Regions from separate parts of the Homo sapiens genome. Here regions 2 and 3 are each linked to region 1. Evidence: fine-mapped expression QTL. A gene starts in region 1. Each other region holds a variant in brackets. All regions are shown on one strand. Distances are from middle to middle. Region 1 holds the start of SELP (selectin P). Region 2 overlaps SELP (selectin P). Region 3 overlaps LOC107985745 (a long non-coding RNA gene).

What was found. PIP is the estimated chance that this variant, and not a neighbour inherited with it, causes the effect.
Region 2: its variant is fine-mapped to the expression of SELP in blood mononuclear cells (TOPMed, PIP 0.94).
Region 3: its variant is fine-mapped to the expression of SELP in neutrophils (BLUEPRINT, PIP 0.95).

The regions. Positions count from the first base shown.
Region 1 is chr1:169,624,273-169,634,961 of GRCh38, forward strand. SELP (selectin P) reads right to left here and starts at 5,852. Exons shown (of 17, transcript NM_003005.4): 1 at 5,800-5,852. The coding sequence starts at 5,802.
Region 2 is chr1:169,602,319-169,613,007 of GRCh38, forward strand. SELP (selectin P) reads right to left here. Exons shown (of 17, transcript NM_003005.4): 5 at 10,611-10,689; 6 at 9,899-10,084; 7 at 9,174-9,359; 8 at 7,186-7,371; 9 at 4,631-4,816; 10 at 708-893. Among named protein-coding and RNA genes, the nearest start is that of F5, 21 kb to the left of the region's middle. RefSeq lists an enhancer at 2,551-2,660. The variant A/G (reference allele first, on the strand shown) is at 5,777.
Region 3 is chr1:169,662,612-169,673,300 of GRCh38, forward strand. The region is part of intron 1 of LOC107985745 (a long non-coding RNA gene); the gene reads left to right. Among named protein-coding and RNA genes, the nearest start is that of SELP, 38 kb to the left of the region's middle. RefSeq lists an enhancer at 5,116-5,621. The variant C/T (reference allele first, on the strand shown) is at 5,229.

The DNA.
Region 1 (10,689 bases):
ATACTAAAACAAGAGGAAATTCCTCTCTAGAAGCATCCACATGCTCTGCTAGTCTTTAATGTTCTCTGGAAGGCTGGTTCAACTGGAAGTTGCTGGAAAGGAGTCAGAGACTGGGTCATTAGAATAACATCCTGTGCCTGTGTAAGCCTTCATTAAGTACCATGATTATCTTTAATTTTACTTTAATAAAGAACTGGGCTGGTGCAGTGGCTCATGCCTCTAATCCCAGCACTTTGGGAGGCCAAGGTGGGCAGATCACTTGAGGTCAGGAGTTCGAGAACAGCCTGGCAACATGGTAAAACCTCGTCTCTACTAAAAATGCAAAAATTAGCCAGGCATAGTGGCACATGTCTGTAGTCCCAGCTACTTGGGAGGCTGAGGCAGGAGAATCGCTTGAACCCAGAAGGCAGAGGTGGCAGTGAGCCGAGACACTCCAGCCTTGGCAACAGAGTGAGACTCTTTCTCAAAAAACAAAACAAACAAACAAGCAAAAAAACTAATAATGATTGCAGGGTGAAGAGAAAAGCAGAGAGAAAGTGGAAGAAGCAAATGCCTTGACCTAACTTTTCACACAAGGAGGTACCAGAGGCTAGTAGGTGTCCCATGGCTTGCCACGTTCCAGGTGGCTTACAAAGTTGGCAAGAATAGTGCCACAGAAAGGAGATCTTGTTCTTTTTGTCTACATTGTAGACCACAGCTTTGTGCTTTTAGAAAGGCGGAATCAAACAATGTCCCTCCCTTGACCCTTTGTCCTCCTGCCCACATCTGCCTGTTTCTCTCCTTCCTCTTATAGCTAAACTTTCTTAACTTCCTTGCCTCCCCCTTACTCTCCAGCCCACTGCCCGACCATCCTATCAAAGTGTCCCTGCAAACTTCATTGCTGACATCCTCATTACCAAACCAAATGAAGACTTTCCACCCTTATCTTCCTTGACCTTTCTGTAGCAGTAAATACCACTACTTCCTTTTGCCTAAAATGCTTCCCTTAGCTCTTCTGTTGTTCTTCTGCTCTAATGTTTGAGAAACTTTTCTGAGTCTTCTTCTGAATCTACCTCAATCCTCTGCCTTCCCTTGCAGAGGTAAGTGTTTCTCTAGGTTCCCACCTCCATGGCCCTATTCTCTTCTCATTCTTCTGCTTTCCTGGGAAGTAAAGATGACCTCCTTATGGTCATCTGTTTCCAATGTCCTCTAATCAGCATCTCCGTTTCTGAATATTCTCTTGAGCAGGAGGTCCACAATTTAAATGCGCAACAAACATGTGAGCATACAGCTGAGGAAGCTACTGACAGAGGCTTCTCAAGGGCAAGGACTATTACTTACTCAGGTCTGAATCCCCAGCCATGGTAGGGCACATACTCAATACTCAATAAACATTTTATGGATAAATATATGAATGAATAATGGCAGAGGAATAACTGAAAGTAAGACAAAAATATGCTAAATAAGAAAATGTTGGAAAAATACATAATAATTATAACTGAATGCATTACTTTTACAGTAGTGATAATAGCTAAGTGAACAAATAAAATGGTGAAAACAGACATAATTCCAGTCCTCATAGAATGCACATTCTATTGGTAGAGAAGACAATGAAACAAATACTAATAACTACACAACAGTACTAAACAAGTAAACATGAAAAATATTAACAGAATATAGCCATAAGTGCTAGGTAGGAAATGAAACTTATGTGATAGAATGACTGTGTCACTATGTTGGTCAGGAACGTCAGGGAAGACCTCTTTAATGAGATAATGTTTAAGTGGAGAGAAGAATGACTGCAAGAAACCAGCCAGTGAGAAGCAGGAAGAAGAGCATTAAAGGAAGAAGAAAAAGCTATTTCAAAGGCCTTAAGGTGGAAGCAAACTGCAGTGTGTTCAAAGAACATGAAGACATTAGTGTGGCCAGAATGGAATGAGCAATGGAGAGAAAAATACGAGCCGGGGGTAGTGACAGATCACATCGGGCTTTGGGATCCAAAACAAGGGGATGAGATTTTATTCTAAGTGCAATGATAAGCCAACGGAAGCTGGGCACGGTGGCTCACATCTGTAATCCCAACACTTTATGAGGCCAAGGCAGGCAGATCCCTTGAGGTCAGAAGTTCAAGACCAGCCTTGCCAACATGGCGAAACCAACTCCACTAAAAAATACAAAAATTAGCTGGGCATGGTGGCGCATGCCTGTAATCCCAGCTACTCAGAAGGCTGAGACAGGAGAATCGCTTGAACCCAGGAGACAGAGGTTGCAGTGAGCTGAGATGGCACTACTGCACTCCAGCCTGCTGAAGATTGGGAGATCCTAGAGGTTAACTGAAAAGGTAGTTTGAGACCATATCTTGTGGGTCACAAATACCAGTTGGCAGAAGGGATACTTCTGAACAGAGAAGTATCATGAACACATGCACTTAATGGTGGTATGATTTTTTTTGTGGGGCTGGGGGACAGGGTCTTGCTCTGTTGCCCAGGCTGAAGTGCAGTGGCATGATCTGGGTTCACTGAAACCTCCACCTCCTGGCCTCAAGTGATCTTCCCATCTCAGCCTCCTGAGTAACTGGGACTACAGGCATGCATCACCACACCCGGCTAATTTTTTGTAGAGATAAGTTCTCACTATATTGCCCAGGCTGGCCTGGAGCCCCTGGGCTCAAGCAATACTTTTTCTTTGGCCTCCAAAAATGCTGATATTATAGGGGTGAGAGTAGTGCGATACTTTTTTTTTTTTAAATGAGTTACAATCAGGGAGATTGCACTGCAAAAGAAGAGGCTATTGCAATGGTCCCAGTGAGAGTTAAAGAGGGACAGGTTTGGTCTGGCATCAGTGGGAATGCAAATAGGGGAGGTGAATATGAGAGTTGTTGAGGATGCAGAACTATACAACTTGTTGGTAGCAAAGCCCAGATGTTACAAGCTATTACAGCTAATACATTAGTTCCCTTATGTTTCTGGACGGTGGTGGTGTTAGTGGTGTGGCACAGATATTGGTAGCCCAGCTTAGGGGTGGAAAAAGAAATACAGTGAGAAAAGAGGTTGTCTCTAAGCCAAAGAGCAAATTATGAATATAGACAAGAAGGGACCCAGGACATCAACACTTAGAATCCAAGCATATATTTAATTTAGACTACCAATTGCCATTATTTTGAGTAAAATATTAGCATTAAAAATAAAGTACGACACTTAAAATTTTTTAAAAAGTCTATTGGATCAGAGATGAGTTATATCTCTACAAATAGTGAGGATTTGCTCTGTATTTGACTTCATGAAGTTTCTGATTTACTTTTTAATCAAAAAGATTAGACACCTTGAAGACAATATAATGAATGTCATTTATAAAACCACTGTGTGCCTACTCTCTAGGTTTAGGTCCAGGGTTTTTTCTAAACACAGTTTTTTATGTAGTAAGTCATTTTGATTTTTGAGGATTTGATCAATAAGCTTCTACTTAAAGATCTCTGAAGATGCACATTCTAAGAGCTGGTGGCTAGCCCAGGAGAGTCTGAACTATTTTAGTTGCATTTTGAAAAACAGGTAATGAAAAGAAGAGTAAGGACTGGAAGCCACATAAGGTGGTTAAAAGGTATAAATGGACGAAAATCCAGACCTGCTCCTTAGCCCACTAAAACTTTTTTTTTGTTTTGTTTTTGAGACAAGTCTTGCTCTGTCACCCAGGCTGGAGTTCAGTGGTGTGATCTCAACTCACTGCCACCTCCACCTCCTGGGTTCAAGAGTTTGTCCTGCCTCAGCCTCCTGAGTAGCTGGGATTACAGGCACATGCCAACATGCCCAGCCAGTTTTTGTAAGTTTAGTAAATATGGTGTTTCACCATGTTGGCCAGGCTGCTCTTGAACTCTCGACTTCAAGTGATCTATGCGCCTCGGCCTCCCAAAGTGCTGGGATTACAGGCATGAGCCACTGAGCCCGGCCATAGCCCGCTAAAACTTTGACAAACATCAGTGCAATTTAACTATAAGTTCCCAATCAAGAGCTACTCCTCTGAGATCTATCTGATTGAAAATACCCCACCAGAAAAACCTTATCCTCATTTTCTCAGGTCCTAAAAGTTAATTAAAGCCACTCTCTGAACTTGAAGCAAAATTTACACAGGCAGTTTGAGGTTTCTGAATCTTTGGGGCCAAATGTGCTCAGAGGAAAAGGAAGAGGTCTTGTCTTTGAAATATTAAAAACCATTCCAGGGCTGGGGCCTTAGCACTTCGCTGTAGAGCTCAAGCCTAATTTCAGGGTACCAAGAGAGGGGCTTCTGAACATAAAGCCCAGGAGGCAATCGAGAAGGGTTCTTACCCTGGGATCCACATGGAGGTCTGGGAACCTCCTGTGGTTGTCTCTAAAGGTTGGTGTTTATGTCGATGTTTTTGCTTTCATCTGGGAAAGACAAGTTGTAACTTTCATCAAAATCTCAAAGAACTCTCTGATCCAATAAGTTCATACCTTTGAAATAGAGGAGGATGCCAAGGAGAGTAGAAGGAAGAGAGGAATAACTGCTCATTTAAGTTAACCAATTCAGAAGTATGACATGCAAAAAGACAGGACAAAAGTAATTCATATCCTTAGGTCATTGTGGTTCAAACTTAAGACAGGCTCAAACTCCTTCCTCTTCTCTTTATCATACTCTTATTCCTGTTTTCCCCAACACAGAAACCCACATTATAAGTACTTGAAAAGTGTGCTATAGTAAAGCAAAGCAGTAGGATGAATCAGGTGTATGCGGTACTTTTTTCTGGAGTCCCACAGAAAGGTGCTCAAAAACAGAGACCTGCCTGGTTCCTCCATAGCCACAGACTGCAGGATTTCGGACCCTGGGACTATGTGGGATACTCTTGGAAAGTCTGAGGAAAATTGGAAGTAGCTTAACCATGTGCATTTTATCTAGGTGCATATAACATTGCTGAGTTCAAAATGCCTAGCTATCCTTGGATCTTCCCTGAATTAGAAGTAGCCTAACCACGTGCATCTTATCCATGAGCATATAACATTGCTGAGTTCAAAATGCCTAGCTATCCTTGGATCTTCCCTGAATCCTAAACCCCACTATTCCTAAGAATTTTCTTTTTATTGTAACAATAATGGCTAACATTTACTAATCACTTACTATGTGTCAGGCTCAGATCTGGATGCTTTTCAGCAAAATCTTATTTAATCCTCATGATGAAACTATAGAGTATTATTACTATATCCATTTTATAGAAGAAGAAACTGAGTCATTAACAAGATTGAGTCTTAGGGCAGAAAAGGAAACTATGTGGATATTCCAGATCAGTCCCAGAAGATTCATAGGCTCACAGAAAGAAATGGGAGGGATGGGGATGAGAAACTATTCAATTGTAAGCTTGTCCCAGGGCACCTACCCAGTCTTCCATTTATTCCATCATTTATCCCAGAGAGAAGTACAGTCTTGGAAAATGGGGTGACAGGTTTACCATGATCTATTCTCAGAGAGCCCCTATAAATTCTAGTAGGAGGAACAGCAGCTGCGGAGCCAGAGGACAGGCCCCAGATCCCAACATCATGTAGCCTAACAGTGAAGCTTAGATAAAACACAGCCTCTGTAAACCACGATGGCTTTATTTGTAAAATAGAAATAGCAACCTCAACTCACAAGGGTGTTGGGAGGGTCAAAGTGGACAGCAAGTTTAAAAGTACTCACAAAATCTAATAGGCAATTCAACATAAAACTCCATGGCTATCGCTGTTCCTCACTTTCTGAACCTTTACCTGCCTGACTTTACTCCATACCACTCCAACTCACTTCAACCACTTCCCATGCAGAAAAAAATAAACTCACCATCTCCTCTGTGACTCTGCTGGTTTTCTGCCTTCTGCCCAACCCAGACTGCTTACAGTCTCACTGCCTCCCCTCAGTGTCAGGCTGTTTAGAAAAACAACTTCCTATTCACATTCCAGAAACTCACCACAGCCCTTCCCATGAAGTTAGAATGTTGATAATGCAAGAGTAATGTTGGCAGCTTAGAAATAGTGGTTGCCAAGAGGCAAGGGGTCACCCCCTTCCATGGAAGATGGTCTGGAGGCAGGCGCAAGGTGAATTACTCCTGGATATCCCAGGCTGAGCAATGTGGGAACAGTACACACACAAAGGTTTCCTTGGATTATGATATAAGCTCCAATTTAAAGTAGTACATTTGGAAAACATGCTTTGAATTAATTACAATGTGATTTTCCAGTGCCCATTTTCCAGTAATTATGACATGTCAGTGAATGTTTACTATTCCGGCAGCCTTCTGAGGGAAAGAAGCAAAATTAGTAGCACAAAAAAAAATAGAGAGAAATGGAAAAAGCCACTAACAGTTTTCTGGCGCTTGGGAAATTTTATTGGTAAGTTTCAAAATGACGTATTAAATAGACATAGGTCATGTGAAAGGAATTCTGCTTCTTATATCAGAAATAAAAAGGTATACAAATAGATACCTTTTTATTTTCCTCTTCCCATGGGATGTGTAGGACCAAAAAGCTGTTGGCATAGTGGTTAAGACTTCAGCTGTGCTGTTAAACTGCCCGAGACCCATCCTGGCTCCTCTTCTGGCTATCTACTGGGCAAACTACTTAAGCTCTCTATGCCTCTGTTTCCTCAACTGTAAAACAGAATAACAGAACTTGCCTCACCGGGTTGTTGTAGGATGAAATGAGTTAATATGTACAGAGTGATTGAAATGACACTTGGCCCACAATTGATGCTCAACAAATGTTAGTGATTATTATTACTTTTCAGATTGATCTCAGACAGCAAAATCAAGTATCAAGTATTTAGTTTCAAGTCAGAAAGCCATAACTCCTATTTATACTCTTGGAATTCTATTGTACAGTAGTAGGTATTATTCTTCATTCACTTCATGATGGTTACAGCTTGTAAATAGGCATCTCATGGATAAATTTAAAATGGAATGAAGTAGAAACATTGGAAGAAAGTCTAAAGGTAAAGATGAATTAGGGTATATAAGGCTGCATTTGCACGTTGGAATTTGGGACCAAGAAGAAAAAATTAATTATATAGTAGAAGTAGAAAAGATGGTGAAGGAAATGCTGTTGAAGGAATGACTGTAGGGGAATAAGGGAAACTTAGAGAGAGGAAAAAATGAGGAACTTCTTGGCAGCATGATGCAGTTCAGAGTCCAGACCCTAGAGTCAGACTGCCTGGCTCCACCACCTACCAGCTGTGTTGGGCGTTACTAATCTCCCTATAACTCAGTTTCCTCAGTGATGTGGTTTGGCTGTGTCCCCACCCAAATCTCATCTGGAATTGTAGCTCCCATAATTCCCACAGGTTGTGGGAGGCACCTGGTAGATCATTGAATCATGGGGGTGGTTTCCCCCATACTGTTCTCATGGTAGTGAATAAGTCGCATGAGAGCTGATGGTTTTATAAGGGGAAACCCCTTTTGTTTGGTTCTCATTTCTCTCTCTTCCCTGCTGCCATGTAAGACGTGTCTTTTGCTTTCTACCATGATTGTGAGGACTCCCCATCCACGTGGAACTGTGAGTCCATTAAACCTTTTTTTTTTTAATAAGTTATCCAGTCTCGGGTATGTCTCTATCAGCATCATGAGAACAGAATAATACACTCAGCAATGTGAATAATAAGGATAATAATCACCAAATACATAGACATGTAAGGACCATTAAATGAATTTAATGTGTTTGGAACAATACCTATCACGCTGTTAAGTGTAAGTTTAAGTGTTGGCTATTATTCTATAAGACTTGCCTCCATGTCTTTCTGTTCTTACTTTCACTCACCAGCCCCTCTTTTTGGCATTGCCTCATGTTAGAAAAAATATATATAGTCTCAGATGGGGATGAGGAAGTGTGGTATGTAGACTAGTAGGTTCTTTTTTTGAGACAGGGTCTCACTCTGCGGCCCAGGCTGGAGTGCAGTGGCATGATTACTGCTTGCTCCAGCCTTGACCTCCTGGGCTCAAGCAATTCTCCCACCTCAGCCTCCTGAGTAGCTGGGACTATAGATGTGTGCCATCACTACTGGCTAATTAAAAAAAAAAATCTCTAGAGATAGGGTCTCTCTATATTTCCCAGGCTGGTCTTGAATTCCTGGGCTCAAGTGATCCTTTCACCTCAGCCTCCCAAAATGTTGGGATTACAGGCATGAGCCACCATGCCCAGCCTGGTAGTTTCTTATTTATAATAAGTTTGATATTAATAAGTTCAATTGATCATATGTTTTTAAGTTTGATATTGTTAAATTTTAGTGAATATAAGGAAAGCATAAAAAGATTCCTATGCAGGTGACATTAGCAAGATGGTGGAGTAGGAGATGTCAGCCTTATGCCCCAACAAAAAAACAAACATAGACAGTTATACACAAACCAAAATAGCCCTCACAAGGGTGGGGAGTTGGGGGATGGGGCTCAAGAGCCTGTTAAAGAATTTGGAACAACACAATGGAGAAAAGAAAGAATATCCATGTAGAAGAATCACCGGTGAGACTGGCATATATGAGACACCAGGAGATAGCTACGAATAAAGAAATTTGTAGGCTATCTGTGTCAGTCATGTGACACAGAGCCACTGAGGCCCCCAGTGTCCTGCTCCACAGAGGACACTGGCATCTTTTATCCAACAGCCATTCCCATAGCAGGATGCTAAAAAGGGAAACACAGTTGCACTACCCCTCACACCCCCTCACCAAGAAGCAGCTATTGTTGCACTGCCCCAGGACTGGGGCCAGGGTTACCACCTCTCACAAGTCTATGTGTGTTCCTGATCCCCAAAAGTTGTGGCTGCTCTACAGATATTCACACTCTGGACTGTGGCTCTGTGGCTGCAGTGCACCTCCTCATGTCTCAGACACTGGAGTCACTGCTGTTGTGAACTAGATCTCACCCTGGGACCCCAAGCCAAGTTCTCTCTGTGAAAGTCTTTGCTCCAGACACTAGTTCAGCCACTGTAGAAAGGTAACCCATATTCTCAACTCCAGAGCTGCTGTAGTAATGTGCACACCTGCGCTCCAGACCCTGTCTCTGAGGCTGTACTACACACACCCACACCTCCAACACCAGAGCCACCACTATAGTGAGCTAGTGAACACCCTGGGTCCTAGAGTCAAGGTTTCTCTGTGCCTGTCCATGCTCTAGTCACCAGCTCAGCCACCAAGGAGAGCTAGCCCACACCCTGGATCCTGGAGCCACTGTAGCTCTGCGTATGCATGCAGTAAAGTCCCTGGCTCCTTAGCTGCTTTATAAGTACCTGCATTTTACACACCATTATCAATGTGATAGTAAGTATGCCTGTGCCTTGGGCACTGGTACCATTGCTACAATTGAATCTGGTGCTGTGGTCCCTCCATGCATGCCCATGCTTCAGGCCTTGGCTCTTGGCCACTCCATGGGCACTGTTCATCAGACACCAGTGTCACCACCACCAGGAGCAGGCCTGCAAGTTAGACCTAATTCCAAGAGGGATGTCCTCAGTCATGACTTCCCAGGTGGGGAAAAAAAGAGATATGGAGGACTTGTCACAATTGAAAACCTCAACAGCCTCATTGCCACTGTAGATACCCACAGTGTTGGCCTCTAAGGATCCCTGTAGTATTCACTAACACCAACCTCAGCTGACAGATCTGCATGGAGACCACACAGCTTTGCCCCTACTGAAGTCAGAACTTTTGCATCCCACCCAGCCAGCATCCTCGCATTATTCCACATAAGAAGGTATTTCTCCACCAAAGTCAGCCCATACAGCCTGAAATTGGGGCAGATCCACCAGATGCTCAGACAGCAGTGTAAGGCAGCAAGAAACATGAAAACCCAAATTAAAATATCACCACCTAAGAAACACAATAATTTCCCAGTAGCTGACCCAAAAGAAATGGAGTACTACAAATGGCCTGACAATGGATTCAAGATAATTGTTTTTAAAGAAGCTCAGTTACTTTGAAGCAAACACAGAGAAACAATTTGGTGAAATCAGAGAAACAATAAATGCACAACATAAGAAATGTAACAGAAAGATTGAAATCATAAAAGAAATTGGAGCTGAAAAATATAATGAATGAAGTGAGAAATGCAGTAGAAATCACCAGTAGCAGACTTGATCAAGCAGAAGAAAGAATCTGTGAACTGAAGACAGGTTTTTGAAAATATACAGTGAGAGGAGAAAAAAGAATGAAAAGAAATGATGAAAGCCTACAAGATTTATGGGACAGCATCAAGAGAGCTAACATTCAGCCAGACTCAGTGGCTCATGCCATAATCCCAGCGCTTTGGGAGGCCAAGGTGAGTGGATCACCTGAGGTCAGGAGTCAAGACCAGCCTGACCAACATGGTGAAACCCAGTCTCTACTAAAAATACAAAAAAATTAGCCAGGGATTGTGGCACATGCCTGTAATCCCAGCTACTGGGGAGACTGAGGCAGCAGAATCTCTTCAACCTAGAAGGCAAAGGTTGCAGTGAGCTGAGATCATGCCACTGCACTCCAGCCTGGGTGACAGAGTGAGACTGCATCTCAAAAAATAAAAACAAAAATTAAATTAAAAATTAAAAAAGAGAGCTAATGTTCACATTACAGTAGTTTAAGAAGGAGAAAATAGAGGAAAAGGGGGTCAGAAAGCATATTTAAAGATTGCTAGCTGAAAATTTCCCAAATCTGAAATAAAATATTAATATTCAGGTACAGGAAGCTTAAAAATCTCCAGTCAGGTTCAAT
Region 2 (10,689 bases), 22 kb before region 1:
ACCCATCCCTAAATAAGGTCTGTGGCTGGGATTTAGTAATGCTCAGTTGAAGGTGAATGTAGGAATGAAGAAATGAAGAATGTAGCTGAAGAAGACTCTGTAAGGAAGTAAAACTTTCAGTGACATAGAGCTGAGCCTTTTCACTTACTAACAGTGTGACCCTGGACGAGTTATTTAACCTCTTTAAGCTTGTGTCTCTTCCTTATCTATAAAATGAGATGATACTGCCTTTCCTTATTATTTTAGAATTGTGGTAAACAGGAATGCTATAATGACATGAAAGCACTTCCTGAAACTGTGCAATTTTTTTTTGAGACAGAGTCTCACTCTGTCACCAGGCTGGAGTGCAATGGCACAATCTCAGCTCACTGCAACCTCCACCTCCTGGGTTCAAGCGATTCTCCTGCCTCAGCCTCCCGAGTAGCTGGGACTACAGGCATGCACCACCATGCCCAGCTATTTTTTGTATTTTTAGTAGAAACGGGGTTTCACCATGTTGGCCAGGATGTTCTTGAAACTGTGGAATATTTAACTAAAGCTATTAAAATATTATTTAAAGAGAGGGAGAACTTTTTTATCTAGATTACCATTGTTGTGGAGAGTGTTGTTTGCTTCAGCTCAAGAACACTTTTATATAAATCCCTGATGATTCTCCATTCTCTGATGTCATCTTTAAAGCCATAAGAAAGGACAGACCCACAGCCTACCTTCACACATTGGTGGGGAGTCTGTCCAGCGTCCCGATCGAGTACAATCCAATCTTTCTGGTCCAGACAAAGAATATCCCTCGTCACAGATGAATTGACATGTGGATTTATAACTGGAACTTCCAAGAGGTTGAACACAGGTCATTGTTCCATTCTGAGGGCTTAGCAAAGGTGTGCAGGGAATGGCTATCATGGGCATGGCAGAGGAGAAAAGAAGAGATCATTTTATAATTCAGCAACCTGAACTCTGTAACTCTCTCTCTCTTTCTCCCTCTCTCTCTCTGTGTGTGTGTGTGTGTGTGTGTGTGTGTGTGTGTGTGTGTGATTAATATACAACGATGGTATTTGGCTAAAAGTGATTGTTTGAATTTCATGATGCTTCATCACCAGTTAGAGATTGTAGAGGTGTAAAATAGCAGCAGCTTACAGTTGATTGACATCCTGAAGTGCTCAATCACAAACAGCTTTAGAGGTGATTTTTAAAGGAAGCTGGTGCTCTGTTTGGGAGGATAGTGGTGCAACTCATTTTTGTTGCTTCTAGACAGGGGTGGAACTGGTTTCTCCCTTGATACCTTCTTCAGAAACACCCCAATGACCTTACCAGAAAACAATGACAAATGATTGGAAACACAGAAATGGAGGAAAATACTTTCTTCCCCCTTTCCCAACCAAGTGGTGGAATCTGCGCCCAAATTTTGGCTCTGTTACTTGCTAGCAATCTATCACTAGACAATAACCTTTCTGAGCCTCAGTTGCTTTATCTTCGAAATGGGAAAAAGGAAAATCCTTGCATATGTGCCACATTTTCTTAATCCAGTCCATCATTGTTGGACATTTGGGTTGGTTCCAAGTCTTTGCTATTTTGAATAGTGCCGCAATAAACATACCTGTGCATGTGTCTTGGTAGCAACATGATTTATAATCCTTTGGGTATATACCCAGTCATGGGATGGCTAGGTCAAATGGCATTTCTAGTTCCAGATCCCTGAGGAATTGCCACACTGACTTCCACCATGGTTGAACTAGTTTACAGTCCCACCAACAGTGTAAAAGTGTTCCTATTTCTCCACATCCTCTCCAGCACCTGTTGTTTCCTGACTTTTTAATGATCGCCATTCTAACTGGTGTGAGATGGTATCTCATTGTGGTTTTGATTTGCATTTCTCTGATGGCCAGTGATGATGAGCATTTTTTCATGTGTCTTTTGGCTGCATAAATGTCTTCTTTTGAGAAGTGTCTGTTCATATCCTTTGCCCACTTTTTGATGGGGTTGTTTGTTTTTTTCTTGTAAATTTGTTTGAGTTCATTGTAGATTCTGGATATTAGCCCTTTGTCAGATGAGTAGATTGCAAAAATGTTCTCCCATTCTGTAGGTTGCCTGTTCACTCTGATGGTAGTTTCTTTTGCTGTGCAGAAGCTCTTTAGTTTAATTAGATCCCATTTGTCAATTTTGGCTTTTATTGCCATTGCTTTTGGTGTTTTAGACATGAAGTCCTTGCTCCTAGGGTCATTTTTCAGCCACTGACTTAAACAGCATGAGGTTTCAAGAACACTTTCTACGCCTTTCTCTTCCCTTCATTCCTTCCCCTCTCTAGCTACATTCCTTTCAATCTGATCAACTTGTCCAAAGATCTGGTTCTTTTCTTCTAGTTGAAAAGTATTTCTGTAGTAAGTGTGTATGTGGGGCTGGAGAGGACACAACTCAAGAAGCCTATAAACTGCAAGGACTTATGGGGGAAAGGGTGTGGGTGAGGATGTTGGTACCACAGAACCCATTTCCAGCTCTTCTGTGGCTTTGCCTTCTGACAGCAGGGGTAGATGTGGAGGGGTGGGAGGACATTAAAAAGGGAAATTGTCTGATAACACTCTCTCAGAAGTATTACAACAGCGAGTGGATTGCACACTGCATGGTACCTTCCTGCCCAGCCCACATTTGGGTATTTCACTTGATGTGCACCCAGCAACAAGAGGAGAAAGTTCAGAGTAAATAAAGAACTAAAAGCAGAAGGGAACTGGAAGGTCACAGGAAGCCGTGGTGAGTGGCAACCTCCTTGCTGTGAAACACCCAGAGGCAGGACAGTATGGAGCAATGAACTGTAATCTGTGCCCTGCACCACCCAGGCTTGCCTGTAAGAGTTTCAATCACTGTGATCACTGTCCTCAGGGATTCCCAGTTCTTCCCACAACTTCCCCAAAGTTGTGTGGACTTTGTGATATGTCCAGACTTCAACGTAGCCAGGATGAGCACTTAAGGGGCAAGGTCACAGCCCCGCCCTGTTCTCTCCAGACCCAGCTCTGAAGGTGCACCCAACCCTAAGTCCAGGGGCTTGCCATCCTCTCTGGTGCCTGGCGATGAAGGACATTCAATTCTGCTGTTTGCTTGTCCATTTGTTCATTCATTCATTCATTCATTCATTCATTCATTTACTGTTGACCTAGCTTAACAATGGGGTGTGTGTGTGGGGGGTGTGTGTGTGTGTATGTGATTATGCTTTTGTGTGACCTGAATAGTGAGTGGTTTCCTTTTAGTAAAAAATATGTATCTGCCCACTTTCACTCAAATGTTGAAAGTCTATACAAAGTGAAAGGTATGGCAAATAATGTAGAACTGTCTAGTCTTTTACCCATTCAACTTTATTGTTAAAATTGTATATACATCATAAAAATATTAATTGCATAGGAGGAAAAGCGGAGAAAATATTGGAAGAATTCATACCAGAAGCCTAACAGTGTCTATTTTAGGATAGGAGTATTTAAGAGGATATTTCTTCATTTCTTTATTATATTTCTGCAGATTTTTATAAATGAAAATCTTGCGTTTAAAAAGCAGCATTGTCTATAAAAGTTAACTAAGGAATTGGATACATTGAGGGGGAAAAAGCTTGGGGAATATAAAAAATATACGTCTATCCTTCAATTCACAAACATGGATGACTAGAACCCGTTCAAGTTCATACAAGATGTTGCAATACTGACAGAGCACACTGGCTTGTTAAATATCAAGTACAAGGCCGGGAGCAGTGGCTCACACCTGTAATACCAGCACTGTGGGAGGCCGAGTCAGGCAGATCACCTGAGGTCAGGAGTTTGAGACCAGCCTAGCTAAGATGGTGAAACCTCATCTCTACCAAAAATACAAAAATTAGCTGGGTGCAGTGGTGGGCACCTGTAGTCCCAGCTACTCGGGAAGCTGAGACAGGAGAATTGCTTGAACCCGGGAGGCGGAGGTTGCAGTGGGCCGAGATTGTGCCATTACACTCCAGCCTGGGCGACAGAGTGAGACTCCGTCTCAAAAAATGTATGTATATCAAGTACAATGCAGATAGAATGTTTATACTGAATCCACACATTTCTTTCTTCTGAGAATCCCGTAACCTCCAGTATACAGATTAGTTTTTCTCTTTTTTCTATCACTCTTCACCTTATTCTAAGTCTATTTCTCCAATTTTATACAGATCTTGGAGTGTTTGCAACTGGGTACTTGTAAATTCTGCCCCTCCCATTTTACCATTATACCCTGTGGTTCCTAGAAGTGCCAGACCAGCCTTGGGACAACCACTCTGAAGCAATTTTTTTCCCACCTGGTCTTCTTTCCAGATGCCATGTTTGGCCAGGTGAGAAGAGTTTACCTGGTTTGTGGCAGGAGCCTTCAGGTCTGGGTAAAGACCCTGATAAGGAGTTAGCAAGGGCCATGCCCTACTGTCTATGGCCAGACATCCTGACACTTGTGTAATCTGCCTATCCCCCGGAGGCATTTGCATTTGGGATCCTTGGGTTATAGGACAAGAGGATGAGTGAGAGTATTTATGAATTTTCCAGTCCATTTCAAGGTGGATCTTACATAGTTGTCACCTCTAAAATCCAGCCTTTAAAAATACTGCCTACAATTTATTTCCATGATGTTAGAAAGAATACACTCTTACCTTGGCATTCTGGAGGAACAGAATTCCAGTTTCCAGTAGCCAAGCACTGTAGCACACTTGCTCCCACCAGGAGCAAGCCTTCATTGCAGGTGAAGCTGCAGACTGACTGGTACCTAAAGGCACCGAAGGGGTGGGAGCAGTTCACCCGGGCCTCATTTGGAACTGGGAGATCCTGGCACTGCAAAGCTAAGGGATGAGGAAGTAAGGAATAAAGAAACAGTAATACACATGTACTCATTGATTTTTGACCATTAACTCTTTCTAGTGTCAAGAACAGGGATTCCTGAATTGGGCTTGTTTAACATAGAAGATAAGAAAAAGTGTCATTTAATTATAACGGCACATGAAGGATTTTATTAGGAAATGCTAAACCTTTGTTGAGCATCTTGGCAACATGTGTCAATAATTTTTAAGTTATCATGCTTTTGGACCCAAGAATTTATGCTAAGTATGTAATCAAGATGCATACCAAAAAATCTATTTAGAGATTTTTGTGAAGACATTATTTGTAAGAGCGGAATATTGAAAACAAACACAAATGCCATTAATTGAGGGTGGAAATTAATGATGGTGGATCCATGAAAAGAATGTTAAAGGTCACTAAAAATAATATATTTTAACTTGTAAAGATAGGAGAGAGGTCTCAATGTATGATGTTAAATAAAAAATCAGAGTAAAAATTATAATATACACCATGATCTCAAAGATGTAAAATAAATAACCATATACGAAGAGAGCACACATATTCCATGTGTTGTCTCTTCTCATCTTTAAAATGGTAGTAATAATTGTAACTACCTCATAGAGTTAGACTGAGATCATAGAAAGTGCTCAATGAACATTAGCTGCTATATTAGTAGCAGTGGTAGTAATAGATAGTAATAATATCATTAAGGCTTTGCGTCACATGCAGACACTGAGTTCAGGAGTGGGAAACATTCAGAAGGCCTATGAAGGGGGTTAGTGAGACCACATCTCTGGATACTTAAGAGAATATCCAACTATCTTTTCTTGATTAGACATTTACCTTCCTGGAGACAACAATGGCTTGAATAATCCCTTATGATCCGTTTTAAGTGTGTCAAAGAGCTCATTGTGTCTTTTTCTCCCAGATAACATATACAATACATTCCATAACTCAGACTA[A/G]GTGTCAGCATCATGGTGTATAGCCATCTATTCTATTGCCTTCTTGTTTTTTCTTTTTTTTTTTTTTTGCTGTTCAATTTTTTATTATAGTGAGATATACGTAGCATGAAATTTAATTTACCATTTACCATGTCACCAATATCAAGTGTACAGTTCAGTGGTATTAAGCACATTCATATTATTGTGCCACCATCACCATTATTCATCTCCAAAACTCTTTTCATCATCTCAAACTGAAACTCCGTATCCATTAAACCATAACTCCCTATTTCCCTCTTCCGCCGAGCCCTTGGCAACCTCCGTTCTACTTTCTGTCTCTATGACTTTGACTACTCTAAGTTCCTCATATGAGTGGAATCATACAGTATTTGTCCTTTCATAGTGGCTTATTTCACTTAGCATAATGTCTTCAAGGTTCATTCATGTTTGTAGCAGAGGTCAGAATTTACTTCCTCTTTAAGGTTGAATAATATTCCACTGTAAGTATGTGGAATACTTTTTACTTATCCTTTCATCCATTGATGGGTGTTTGGGTTGCTTCCACATTTTAACTGTTGTGATTAATAGTGCTATGAACATGGGTGCACAAATATCTCTTCAAGACCTGCTTTCAAACCACTGCCTCATTTTAAAATCAAGGTATACTTAGGAACCCAGAGGAGTCACATAGATTGCTCAGAGGTCTCCGTAAATGAAAACACAAAATGTCAATATTACACTTCTGGAACATGACTTTAGTGTGAGGTACTCCTCGTAAAAAAAATAATAATCCTTGTGAACCACCACACCCGCCCCCCATGAGTGCCTTAGTATAAGAGCAAAAGATTAGAAACCTAACATATTGAAAGAGGATCATTTTGTCAAATCAGACCACAGACATGTGATTTATAAGGTAACATGTCATCATCATCATTTTCCCTATAAATCCTATAAGAGTTTTAAAGTTGCGTTTACACACATTAATTCACAACTACTAGTGAGGCAGGTAGGTAAGGCTGATAATAGTAGCCCCATTTTACAGAAGATACTGAGCCTCAGAGAGTCTAAACCACTAGCTTAAGGACAGGAAGTGACAGGACTGAGCTAAACACCTTGTCCATTACCCTTCCCCATCCCATGCTATTCCTCATGCATGATTTATTCCCCCAAGCCCCATCTTCTTCATTCCAATGCACCCTATATGTGTCAATCAGTGCAAACCTCACCTTGACTATACTATAGTGGACATGTGCCTAAGACTGGCTTCACGCACCGTTTCATCTCATCCCTGGTCCCAAGCACAAAGGACATGGCCCATAGTAGGTTCTCAGTGAATATCTGATAAAGAAAGGCATGCCAATGCTCAGTGCAGATGCTGATGCCTCTAACGAGCTGAGACACACAGAAAAACATTACCACTGTTACAGTACCTTGACAGACTGGGGCTGGTGCTGTCCACTGTCCCAAGTTATCACACCGAACTATATCGGCTCCTCTCAGCATGAAACCTTCAGCACAGCGGAAGCTACAGTTGGTGTCATACTGAAACGCTCTCAAGGATGGAGAGCAATCCATGCTTCCGTGGACAGGACTCTCCAGCGGCTCACACGAAATAGCTAAGTGGAAAAGGTATCTTCTAAAGCCAGGTAATGGAAGGGCCGGGTTCTTCCTCAGAAAAAATTCCTAGATGCTATATCTTTCCTGTCCACATTTTCAGTGTGTTCAGAACCCTAAAACCTCCATTTTCCAAAAGAGAGACTGCCTGGAACACCTTCCCATGCCCCTCTTGGCCTGACTCACTCTCACCTGCCCTTCAGGTCTCAGCTTAGACTTCCCTTTCCTTAGGAAGCCCTCCCTTCCCACCTTAACTAAGGGTAGAAGCCCCTGCAATGTGCTCCCACAGCCTCTGTTCTTGCGCTGTTCATACATGATTGTCATTCTTCCCCATTATACCGTGGTCTCCTCGAAGTTGGGCTCAGTCATTCATAGTTTTATTCTGGAGCTGAGCAGAGTGTTTTGTACATTGAAAGTGCTCATTAAATATTGACATTATCTGTGAAATTGAACCTGAAAAGAGTATATACAGGAAAATGCTGGACTTATAGGGAAAAAAAAAAAAGCTGGACTAGCATAGCTTATTGTTGACACTGTTACCTAGTCCTGTAAAATGATCCTGACCGGGCTTTGTCTCTAGAACACAGGATGTCATCCTAATCAGACTTCAGTTGCCAAGTGAGTGCAGCCAAAGTGAATTCCTGAGCACAATTAAGCCCTGAGTGACCTCAGTTCTGATAAAGATTGGTTTCCTCATGCTCTTCCTTGATAAAGCATTTCATTTCCAGGCTATTTCTGAAACTTTTCAAAGTGTAAAGACTACCTCTTTGCTCTGGGCTTTGACCTCTGGTTTTTACAGACTCAGAGCATTTAAGAACCAAAAATCCGGCTGAGCACAATGGCTCACACCTATAATCCCAGCACTTTGAGAGGCTGATGTGAGTGAATCACTTGAGGTCGGGAGTTTGAGACCAGCCTGGCCAAAGTGGTGAAACCCTAGTCTCTATTAAAAATACAAAAAGTTGCCTGTAATCCTAGCTATTCGGGAGGCTGAGGCAGGAGAATCGTTTGAACCTGGGAGGCAGAGGTTGCAGTGAGCTGAGATCGTGCCACTGCACTTCAGCCTGGGCGACAGAGTGAGACTCTGTCTCAAAACAAACAAACAAACAAACAAACAAACAAACAAACAAAAACACCAAAATCCTCTAGTGTTTCTCTCTTCTCTCTTATGTTTTAGGCAAGAAAAGTGAGGTTCAGAAGTGTTAAGTGACTTCTCTAAAGTCTCATAGCTAGATAGTAGCAGGGTTGGGCTTGTCATCCAGGTCTGGGAATTCACTAATCTATCGTAAATTTCCTATTCTCCCATTACCACTGTCCGCCTTATAAACTGAGGGTGTGAGGCAATTGCAGAGAATTCATTTTGGCGGAATTATGTAATTGCCTGGGATTGCATCACACACTTTTTCGATGCAGTGTTCCTTCCTTTGCTTCTTTGTCAAAGGCTACCCTCAAAGACTACATGGTGAACCACTCTCTTTAGCCACCTTAGCCGCTGCTCCCAACTCCCTCTCAAGTATAGGACATGGTCCTATACCTCGGATATGTCAGTAGAGCAGAAGCTCTATGCTAGGTACTTTATACATGCTATTTAATTGTATACTTTTTATGTACTTAATCCTCACAAGCACCTTGCAATTCTTAGCTCCATTTCACAGATGAGAAAACCATGGTTCCTGGAGGTTGAAGAGCTTGCTCTAGTGCAAGAACTTAGAAGAGATCACCCCGACACTGAGAGCCCTTGGCCTCTCTACCATGCCATGATTCCTTCTTGGACAGAATGGAGGTTGCTAATGAAAAATCCTACCCTCACAGGTTGGCAAGGGTGCAGACCAGTGTCCAGAGTCAATGCAGCGGAGCATGTCCAAGCCCCTCACTCTGTAGCCGGGCTGGCACTCAAATTTACAGCTGGAGCCATAGGCAAAAGCAGTGAGCGGATGAACACAGTCCATGGTTCCTTCACTGGGGGCTTCCAGGTGCTGACACTGCACAGCTGGAGAGAATAACCAAGGATAAAGAGAAAGATACTGAGAAAGGAGAAAAGCCACACAGAGAGCAATGGTGGAACCACCTCTGAAATGCAGGTGGAGCTAGCAAGATGTAAAGGTCAAGAGACCCTAATGATGTTTGTCCAGACTTGGATTACCAGTTCCCAGGGTGATCTGAGTCTGTTAAAAACAAAGATTCCTCCAAGCTGTATTCTTAATGTCCTCTATTCCCTATACTTCTATAAACCTGTCTCAGTAGGTCTTCTAGTGTCCACTTATAGATGTAGAGGCCACCCTTTCTAATCTTATGGGGAAATTATGAATGAGGCCATTCTGAAACTGCCTGCATTTGTGTTTGGGGAAAGAAAGGAATTTTTTTCCTTTCTCATCTCAGATGAACCCAATCTAGCTGAATGGCAGGTAGGAAGAGAATTAAATTTTGGCAATTCAGGCCAGCTTCTCCATAAGCTGGTCAATTTCATCTATGCACTAAGTAAGGACTGGGTGCAATGGACATTATACATCCCAACTACCTGAAACTCACCTTTACACACTGGGGCTGGGGCTGTCCATACCCCCGAGGCTGTGCATTGCACCACTTCCGGTCCAACTAATGCAAATCCCTCTTCACAACTGAAGCTGCAGCTAGACTGATGCTGGAATGCTTTTGCAGAATGAAGGCAGGTCATGTTTCCTCGTTCAGGAATCTTCAGGGGTGGGCACTGGGCAGCTAAAACCAACCACAGAATAATAGTGTGAGTCCTTGGACAAATTTTGTCCATCACCTTGGAAGCCTTCAAATTCTGCAGCAGTCACACCTTCCCAAAGTGGCAGGCAGGTTGATGCACTAGAATGGTTAAATGGTGTTTTCAATAGCTGCTTGGAAAGATCAAACACCCTTGTTTTTCATGTAGAGAAGTTAGGTAAAATTATCAAATTAATAATTCTTAACCCCTAAGTCCTCATCATTGTACTCTGTTTACTTTACAATTAACAAAGGGAAAGAGGGGTCCCTTTGTAATGTTTTTGCCTGCGAATCAACAATTAAACTGACTAAGTCACTCTACCCATAAAAAAATACCATGAAAATTGAAATTAATGTTACTCTGGTTGACAGTTAACAGTGATAACCAGAGTTTTCCATCTAACCTAGATGGTCATTATTTCTCACATTTTTTAATGGAGAAAGCTCATTGTGTCCTCTTCTCCCCCAAAATTCTATGTCAGTGAGGATGAAAAGAATAAGGTCTACATACCTAAACACTGTGGAGGCTTATTTGTCCAGATTCCAGAAGCCAAGCATTCCAGCTTGCTGGGCCCATTTACTTGGTACCC
Region 3 (10,689 bases), 38 kb after region 1:
TTAAAAGCGACTAGCACGGCCGCCAGACTAAAGACACGGGTGTCAGGCTTTCTGGGAAAGGGCTCTCTAACAACCCCCGACTCTTCGAAGTTGGGACTGTTGGTTTGCCTAGAACCAGCTTCCACTTTTCCTGTACTTCTGGGCTGAGCCGAGGGTTGACAGAGAGGAAAGCCATGCAGCTCCGGGGTCCTGACAACAAGTTGGTTGACCCTGTGGCCATGAGCAGAACTCTCAAAGGCATGTTGCCCAAGCGAGACTCTCGCCCATCTATCCTATCTATCCTGATGCTTGCCCCCTGGGTCCTAATGCCTGCCAGACAAACTTCCTCTTGCCTCTCTTCTCCGAGGTTAGTCCCACTTCTAAAAATTGCTACCTGTCTCTGGTGCTTTTCTAGTTTCTCCTATAAGAATGATTTCTAGAATAAACTCCAGGACTCTGTTACCTTCTTTAGGCACCCGGGCTCACCAATCAGAAAGACATAATTTTTGCCCAAAGCCCCATCATAGTGGGGACTACCTGGAATTTTAGGATCCCTCCTCAGACTAATAGGCATAACAAAAGCTATTCCTGAAGCTAGGATATGGGGAGCCTCAGAAATTGTATCCTTCCTATTCATATAAGTGAGGACAAAAGGTGTCACTCTTCCAACCCTGGAGATCACTTCCCTCCCTCAGGGTATGGCCCTCCACTTCATTTTTGGGGCATAACATCTTTATAGGAAAGGGGTAAAGTCCCAATACTAACAGAAGAATGCTTAGGACTCTAACAGGTTTTTGAGAATGCGTCAGTAAGGGCCACTAAAGCCGATTTTTCTCGGTTGGTCCTCCTTGTGGTCTAGGAGGACAGGCAAGGGTGCAGGTTTTCGAGAATGTGTTGGTAAGGGCCACTAAATCCGACCTTCCTCAGTTCTCCATGTGGTCTGGGAGGAAAACTAGTGTTTCTGCTGCTGCGTCGGTGAGCACAACTATTCCGATCAGCAGGGTCCAGGGACTGTTGCGGGTTCTTGGGCAGGGGTTGTTTCTGCTGCTGCGTCGGTGAGCACAACTATTCTGATCAGCAGGGTCCAGGGACTGTTGCAGGTTCTTGGGCAGGGGGAAAAACAAAATAAACCAAAACCATGGGCGGTTTTGTCTTTCAGATGGGAAACACTCAGGCATCAACAGGCTCACCCTTGAAATGCATCCTAAGCCACTGGGACCAATTTGACCCACAAACCCTGAAAAAGAGGTGGCTCATTTTTTTTCTGCACTACGGCTTGACCCCAATATTCTCTTTCTGATGGGGAAAAATGGCCACCTGAGGGAAGTACAAATTACAATACTATCCTGCAGCTTGACCTTTTCTGTGAGAGGGAAAGCAAATGGAATGAAATACCTTATGTCCAAGCTTTCTTTTCATTGAGGGAGAATACACAACTATGCAAAGCTTGCAATTTATGTCCCACAGGAGGACCTCTCAGCTTACCCCCATATCCCAGCCTCCCTATAGCTCCCCTTCCTATTAATAATAATCCTCCTCTAATCTCCCCTGCCGGAAGGAAACAAGCAAAGAAATCTCCAAGGGACCACAAAAACCCCTGGGCTATCGGTTATGTCCCCTTCAAGCTGTAGGGGGAGGGGAATTTGGCCCAACCTGGGTACATGTCCCCTTCTCCCTCTCTGATTTAAAGCAGATCAAGGTAGACCTGGGGAAGTTTTCAGATGATCCTGATAGGTACGTAGATGTCCTACAGGGTCTAGGGCAAACCTTAGACCTTGCTTGGAGAGATGTCATGCTACTGTTAGATCAAACCCTGTCCTTTAATGAAAAGAATGCAGCTTTAGCTGCAGCCCGAGAGTTTGGAGATACCTGGTATCTTAGTCAAGTAAATGATAGAATGACAACCAAAGAAAGGGACAAATTCCCTACTGGTCAGCAAGCCATCCCCAGTATGGATCCCCACTGGGACCTTGACTCCGATCATGGGGACTGGAGTCATAAACATTTGTTGACCTATGTTCTAGAAGGACTAAGGAGAATTAGAAAAAAACTGATGAATTATTCAATGATGTCCACCATAACTCAGGGAAAGAAAGAAAAATCCCTCTTCCTTCCTTGAGCGGCTACGAGAGGCCTTAAGAAAATATACTCCCCTGTCACCCGAATCACTCAAGGGTCAATTGATTCTAAAAGATAAGTTTATTACCCAATCAGCTGCAGATATCAGGAGAAAGCTCCAAAAGCAAGCCCTGGGCCCTGAACAAAATCTAGAGGCATTATTAAACCTGGCAACCTCAGTATTCTATAATAGGGACCAAGAGAAAGAGGCCCAAAAGGAAAAGCGAGATCAGAGAAAGGCTGCAGCCTTAGTCATGGCCCTCAGATAAACAAACCTTGGTGGTTCAGAGAGGATAGAAAATGGAGCAGGCCAATCACCCGGTAGGGCTTGCTATCAGTGTGATTTACTAGGACACTTAAAAAGATTGTCCAATGAGAAACAAGCTGCCCCCTTGTCCATGTCCACTATGCTGAGGCAATCACTGGAAGGTGCACTGTGCCAGAGGATGAAGGTTCCCTGGGTCAGAAGCCCCCAACCAGATGATCCAACAACAGGACTGAGGGTGCCCGGGGCAAGCGCCAGCTCATGTCATCACCCTCACTGAGCCCCAGGTATGTTTCACCATTGAGGGCCATGAAATTGACTTCCTCCTGGGCACTGGCATGGCCTTCTCAGTGTTAATCTCATGTCCTGGATGACTGTCCTCAAGGTCCGTTACCATCCGAGGAATCCTGGGATAGCCTGTAACCAGGTACTTCTCCCACCTTCTCAGTTGTAATTGGGAGACTTTGCTCTTTTCACATGGCTTTCTTGTTATGCCTGAAAGTCCCGCACCCTTATTAGGGAGGGATATATTAGCCAAGGCTGGAGCTATTATCTACATGAATATGGGGAACAAGTTACCCATTTGTTGTCCCCTACTTGAGGAGGGAATCAACCCTGAAGTCTGGGCATTGGAAGGACAATTTGGAAGGGCAAAAAATGCCCGCCCAGTCCAAATCAGGTTAAAAGATCCCACCACTTTTCCTTATCAAAGGCAATATCCCTTAAGGCCTGAAGCTCATAAAGGATGACAGAATATTGTTAAACATTTGAAAGCTCAAGGCTTAGTAAGGAAATGCAGCAGTCCCTGCAACACCCCAATTCTAGGAGTACAAAAACCGAATGGTCAGTGGAGACTAGTGCAAGATCTTAGACTCATCAATGAGGCAGTAATTCCACTATATCCAGTTGTACCCAACCCCTATACCCTGCTCTCTGAAATACCAGAGAAGGCAGAATGGTTCATGGTTCTGGACCTCAAGGATGCCTTCTTCTGTATTCCCCTGCACTGTGATTCCCAGTTCCTCTTTGCTTTTGAGGATCCCACAGACCACATGTCCCAACTTACGTGGACGGTCTTGCCCCAAGGGTTTAGGGATAGCCCTCATCTGTTTGGTCAGGCACTGGCCCAAGATCTAGGCCACTTCTCAAGTCCAGGCACTCTGATCCTTCAATATGTGGATGATTTACTTTTGGCTACCAGTTCGGAAGCCTCGTGCCAGCAGGCTACTCTAGATCTCTTGAACTTTCTAGCTAATCAAGGGTACGAGGTGTCTAGGTCGAAGGCCCAGCTTTGCCTACCGCAGGTTAAATATCTAGGCCTAATCTTAGCCAAAGGGACCAGGGCCCTCAGCAAGGAACGAATACAGCCTATACTGGCTTATCGTCACCCTAAGACATTAAAACAGTTGAGGGGGTTCCTTGGAATTGCTAGCTTTTGCCGACTATGGATCCCCAGATAGTGAGATAGCCAGGCCCCTCTATACTCTAATCAAGGAAACCCAGAGGGCAAATACTCATCTAGTCGAATAGGAACCAGAGGCAGAAAGAGCCTTCAAAACCTTAAAACAGGCCCTAGTACAAGCTCCAGCTTTAAGCCTTCCCACAGGACAAAACTTCTCTTTATACGTCACAGAGAGAGCCGGGATAGCTCTTGGAGTCCTTACTCAGACTCGTGGGACAACCCCACAACCAGTGGCATAGCTAAGTAAGGAAATTGATGTAGTAGCAAAAGGCTAGCCTCACTGTTTAAGCATAGTTGCAGCAGTGGCCGTCTTAGTGTCAGAGGCTATCAAAATAATACAAGGAAAGGGTCTCACTGTCTGGACTACTCATGATGTAAATGGCATACGAGGTGCCAAAGGAAGTTTATGGCTATCAGACAACCACCTACTTAGATACCAGGCACTCCTCCTTGAGGGACCAGTGTTTCAAATACACACGTGTGTGGCCCTCAACCCTGCCACTTTTCTCCCAGAGGACGGGGAAACAATCGAGCATGACTGCCAACAAATTATAGTCCAGACTCACACCGCCTGAGATGAGCTCTTAGAAGTCCCCTTAACTAATCCTGACCTTTACCTATATACCAATGGAAGTTCATTTGTGGAGAATGGGATACGAAGGGCAGGTTACACCATAGTTAGTGATGTAACCATACTTGAGAGTAAGCCTCCTCCCCCAGGGACCAGTGCCCAGTTAGCAGAACTAGTGGCACTTACCCAAGCCTTAGAACTGGGAAAGGGAAAAAGAATAAACGTGTATACAGATAGCAAGTATGCTTATCTAATCCTATATGCCCATGCTGCAATATGGAAAGAGAGGGAGTTCCTAACCTCTGGGGGAACCCCCATCAAATACCACAAGGAAATTATAGAGTTATTGCACACAATGCAAAAACACAAGGGGGTGGCACTCTTACACTGCCAAAGCCATCAAAATGGGAAGAAGAGGGGAGAGCAGCAGCATAAGCGGCTGGCAGAGGCAGGGAAAGATCAGCAAGAAGGAAAGAGAGAAAGAGAAAGTCAGAGAAAGAGAGAGAGGAAGAAACAGAGAGAAAGAAAGAGACAGGAAGTCAAAGAGACAGAGAAGGAGACAGAGAGGAAGAAGTCAAAGAGAAAGAGAAAGAGAGACAAAGGAGAAGTCAAAGAGAAAGAGAAAGAGAGATGGAAGTAGTAAAGAAAAAAAAACAGTGTACCCTATTCCTTTAAAACCCAGGGTAAATGTCTATCTACCCAGCCAAGGCATATTCTACTTATGTGGATCTTCAACCCATATCTGCCTCTCAGACAGTTTGCAAGAAATAATGAAATCTATCCTTACTTTACAGTCCCAAATAGACTCTTTGGTAGCAGTGACTCTCCAAAAC[C/T]GCCAAGGCCTAGACCTCCTCACTGCTGAAAAAGGATGACTCTGCACCTTCTTAGGGCAAGAGTGTTGTTTTTACACTAACCAGTCAGGGATAGTACGAAATGCCGCCCGGTGTTTACAGGAAAAGGCTTCTGAAATCAGACATCTTTCAAACTCTTATACAAGCCTCTGGAGTTGGGCAACATGGCTTCTCCTCTTTCTAGGGGAGCAGTGGAGGGAGAGGTGCGGGCAGGAACCGGGGCTGCATGCGGTGCTTGTGGGCCAGCGCGAGTTCCAGGTGGCATGGGCTTGGTGGACCCCACACTCGGAGCGGCCGGCCGGCCCCACCGGCCCTGGGCAGTGAGGGGCTTAGCACCTGGGCCAGCAGCTGCTGTGCTCAATTTCTCGCCAGGCCTTAGCTGCCTTCCCACGGGGCAGGGCTTGGGACCTGCAGCCCACCATGCCTGAGCCTCCCCCAACTCCCTGGGCTCCTGTGCAGCCCGAGCCTCCCCGACGAGCGCTGCCCCCTGCTCCACGGCACACAGTCCCATCAACCACCCAAGGGCTGAGGAGTGCGGGCTCACGGCACGGGACCGGCAGCCAGCTCCACCAGCAGCCCCGGCGTGGGATCCACTGGGTGAAGCCAGCTGGGCTCCTGAGTCTGGTGGGGATGTGGAGAACCTTTATGTCTAGCTAAGGGATTGTAAATACACCAATCGGCACTCTGTATCTAGCTCAAGGTTTGTAAACACACCAATCAGCACCCTGTGTCTAGCTCAGGGTTTGTGAGTGCACCAGTCGACACTCTGTATCTAGCTGCTTTGGTGGGGCCTTGGAGAACCATTATGTCTAGCTAAGGGATTGTAAATACACCAGTCGGCACTCTATATCTAGCTCAAGGTTTGTAAACACACCAATCAGCACCCTGTGTCTAGCTCAGGGTTTGTGAATGCACCAATCGACACTCTGTATCTCGCTACTCTGGTGGTGACTTGGAGAACCTTTGTGTCGACACTCTGTATCTAGCTAATCTGGTGGGGACGTGGAGAACTTTTGTGTCTACCTCAGGGATTGTAAATGCACCAATCAGCGCCCTGTCAAAACAGACAACTTGGCTCTACCAATCAGCAGGATGTGGGTGGGGCCAGATAAGAGAATAAAAGCAGGCTGCATGAGCCAGCAGTGGCAACCCGCTTGGGTCCCCTTCCACGCTGTGGAAGCTTTGTTCTTTCACTGTTTGCAATAAATCTTGCTGCTGCTCACTCTTTGGGTCCACACTGCCTTTATGAGCTGTAACACTCACTGCGAAGGTCTGCAGCTTCACTCTTGAAGCCAGCAAGACTACGAACCCACTGGGAGGAACAAACAACTCCAGATGGGCCACCTTAAGAGCTGTAACACTCACCGAGAAGGTTTGCAGCTTCACTCCTGAGCCAGCGAGACCACGAACCCACCAGAAGGCTGAACACATCCGAACATCAGAAGGAACGAACTCCGGACACACCACCTTTAAGAACTGTAACACTCACCGCGAGGGTCCGCGGCTTCATTCTTGAAGTCAGTGAGACCAAGAACCCACCAATTCCGGACACAGTACCAAGACAGATATATAGACCAATGGAACAGAACAGAGCCCTCAGAAATAATACCACACATCTACAACCATCTGATCTTTGACAAACCTGACAAAAACAAGAAATGCAGAAAGGATTCCCTGTTTAATAAATGGTGTTGGGAAAACTGGCTAGCCATATGCAGAAAACTGAAACTGGATCCCTTCCTTACACCTTATACAAAAATTAACTCAAGATGGATTAAAGACTTAAATGTGAGACCTAAAACTATAAAAGCCCTAGAAGAAAACCTAGGCAATACCATTCAGGACATAGGCATGGGCAAAGACTTCATGACTAAAACACCAAACTCAGTGGCAACAAAAGCCAAAATTGACAAATTTGATATAATTAAACTAAAGAGCTTCTGCAGAACAAAAGAAACTATCATCAGAGTGAACAGGAAACCTACAGAGTGGGAGAAAGTTTTGCAATCTATCCATCTGACATAGGGCTAATATCCAGAATCTACAAGGAACTTCAAAAAATTTACAAGAAAAAATCAACCCCATCAAAAAGTGGACAAAGGATATGAACAGACAATTCTCAAAAGAAGACATTTATGTGGACAACAAATGTATGAAAAGAAGCTCATCATCACTGGTCATTAGAGAAATGCAAATCAAAACCACAATGAGATACCATCTCATGCCAGTTAGAATGGTGATCATTAAACAGTCAGGAAACAACAGATGCTGGAGAGGATGTGGAGAAATAGGAATGCTTTTACACTGTTGGTGGGAGTGTAAATTAGTTCAACCACTGTGGAAGACAGTGTGGCGATTCCTCAAGGATCTAGAACCAGAAATACCATTTGACCCAGCAATCCCATTACTAGGTATGTACCCAAAGGATTATAAATCATTCTACTATAGACACATGCACACATATGTTTATTGCAGCACTGTTCACAGCAGCAAAGACTTGGAACCAACCCAAATACCCATCAATGATAGACTGGATAAAGAAAATGTGGCACATATACACCATGGAATACTATGCAGCCATAAAAAATGATGAGTTCATGTCCTTTTCAGGGACTTGGATGAAGCTGGAAACCATCATTCTCAGCAAACTAACACAGGAACGGAAAACTAAACACCGCATGTTCTCACTCATAAGTGGGAGTTGAATAATGAGAACACATGGACACAGGGAGGGGAACATCATACACCAGGGCCTGTTGCGGGGTGGAGAGCTAGGGGAGGGATAGCATTAGGAGAAACACCTAATGTAGATGATAGGTTGATGGGTGCAGCAAACCACCATGGCATGTGTATACCTATTTAACAAACCTACACGTTCTGCACATGTATCACAGAACTTAAAGTGTAATTTTTTTAAAAAACATCACTTTTAGGTGGTATGTTATCTACTGATGAAGAGGAAGGCTATAATCACAAGCTCCTTAGTGAGCAATAGGGGGAGGGTATCTGATGGTATAGAAAGGAGAATGGGGTGGCACTAGAGACCAATTTAAACCACTTCACAATTGGGCCTGACCCCAGCTTTGGTTTGAAACCGAGGGCAGGAGCAGCCAGGCAGCAACGTCTTTTCCTGTCTTCAAGCACAGGAAATCAGTTAGATTGACCTGACATACTTGGATGATAAACAGTGGCAGGCTTTCCCAGGCAGCATTGTACTTCTTCCCCTGTTAACACCTCCCACTGTGGAAAAATCTAAACAAACTAGAATTAACAGGAATCCAACATCTTCTTTTCTATAGCGAAAAGTTTCCTTGCCTAACTCATTTAGGAGACTTTTTGGGAAGTTAGAAAGTTGGAAAAAGAAAAGCTTCACATCAGTGCATAGCTGTTTTTAACTTCTATGTGTTGAAAAAGCATATCTGATCAAAATTTTTACCTATTATGCATTTGATATATAAATAAGTATATAAATGCACACACAGACACAGCAATGATGGTGAACAGTCTTCATACAATTATATCACACACAGACACAGCAATGATGGTGAACAGTCTTCATACAATTATATGACACACAGACACAGCAATGATGGTGAACAGTCTTCATACAATTATATGGATGAATCTCATAAAATGCTGAGTTAAAGAAATCAGACCAAAGAACATATACTGAAAGATTCTCTCTATATACAAAGTTCAAAAATAGGTGGGACCAATTCATGGTGGTGTTAGAAATCAGAAGAGAGGCTACCTTTGTGGGGAGGGGACAGTTTAATGCCCAGAAGCGGTAAATAAGGAATCCTCTGGGGAGTGGTAATGATCTGGATGCTGGCTACAGGATGTGTTGGTTGTAAAAATGCATTTTTTTATATCTAGCTTTTTCCATGTGTATATTATACTTCAAAGAAGTTCAGTTAATAATTTCTCATGTCACTGTAGAGTAGCTCAGTTAGCCCCAGCAAGCCTCTGGCTTAATCTTGTTTTACCTTAAGCCATCAGTCATTTACAAGTAGGAAAATTCACAGGGAAAGTTAGAGTATAAAATCCAGAATGAAGGTTTACTGGGTAAGAGTCTCTCCATTTTCCAAAGCCCGTTTATTTCTTGATTCCAGTTCTTAAGAAGTCTCAGCATTGTGTCTTTTTCATGTATCTTACAAGAAGACAGCATGTGCTTCTAACACCTGATACATTGTATCTACCAGCACTTGGTAAACAGAAAAGAACCACATTTTTCTTGTAGGAGAAATTTGGTGCCTATTTCCTACCAGGCACCAATAAGTGGGACCAATAGGTGGGATTAAAGATACAGTAGAAAGTATTTAAAACTTGCCAGGGGGCAATAGTCTGAAAATAAGTAAATTGGTGCTATAGAATGGAAGTTACAGGCTTCTTTCTTTTTTCCCACAAGATCTGCTCCTTGAGCCCCTAGAGACTTTTCTGTCTGTTACTGTTTCTTCATTCCTCATCTGCAGAGCCAGCCCTGAGAAGTGCAGACCAAAGCCAGGGAAGGCTCTGCAAAGATGTACAAATGGAAGTCACCTTAATAACCTCTGACTGCTGCGCATAATACATTTCACTCAAAAGAGGGGTTAAACAATGGAACAGAATACAGAGGCCAGAAATAATGCTGAACACTGACAACCATCTGATCTTTGACAAAATCCACAAAAACAAGCAATGGAGAAAGGACTCCCTATTCCATAATGGTGCTGGGATAACTGTCTAGCTATATACAGAAGATTGAACCTGGGCCCCTTCCTTACATCATATACAAAAAATAACTCAAGATGGAGTAAAGACTTAAATCTAAAACCAAACACTATAAAAACCCTGGAAGATAGCCTGGGAAATACCATTCTGGACATAGGACCTGGCAAAGACTTCATGACAAGACACCAAAAGCAATAGCAACAAAAACCAAATTGACTAATGAAACTAATGAAACTCTTTAGTTGTACAACAGATAGTTTATCTGTACAACAAAATAAACTATCAACAGAGTAAACAACCTACAGAATGGAAAAATTTTTTGCAAACTATGCATCTGACAAAGGTCTAATATCCAGAATCTATAAGGAATTTAAACAAATTTACAAGCAAAAAAATGACCTCATTAAAAAGTGGGCAAAGGACATGAACAGATGCTTTTCAAAATAAGACATTCACACATCCAACAACCATATGAAAAGATGTTTAACATCACTAATCATTAGAGGAATACAAATCAAAAGCATAATAAGATACCATCTAATACCAGTAGGAATGACTACTATTAAAAAGTCAGACAATAACAGATGCTGGTGAAGGTTGTGGAGAAAAGGGAATGTTTATGCACTGCTAGTGGGAATGTAAACTAGTTCAGCCATTGTGGAAGAGAGTGTGGTGATTCCTCAAAGAATGTAAAACCGAACTGCCTTTCAATCCAGCAATCCCATTATTGGAT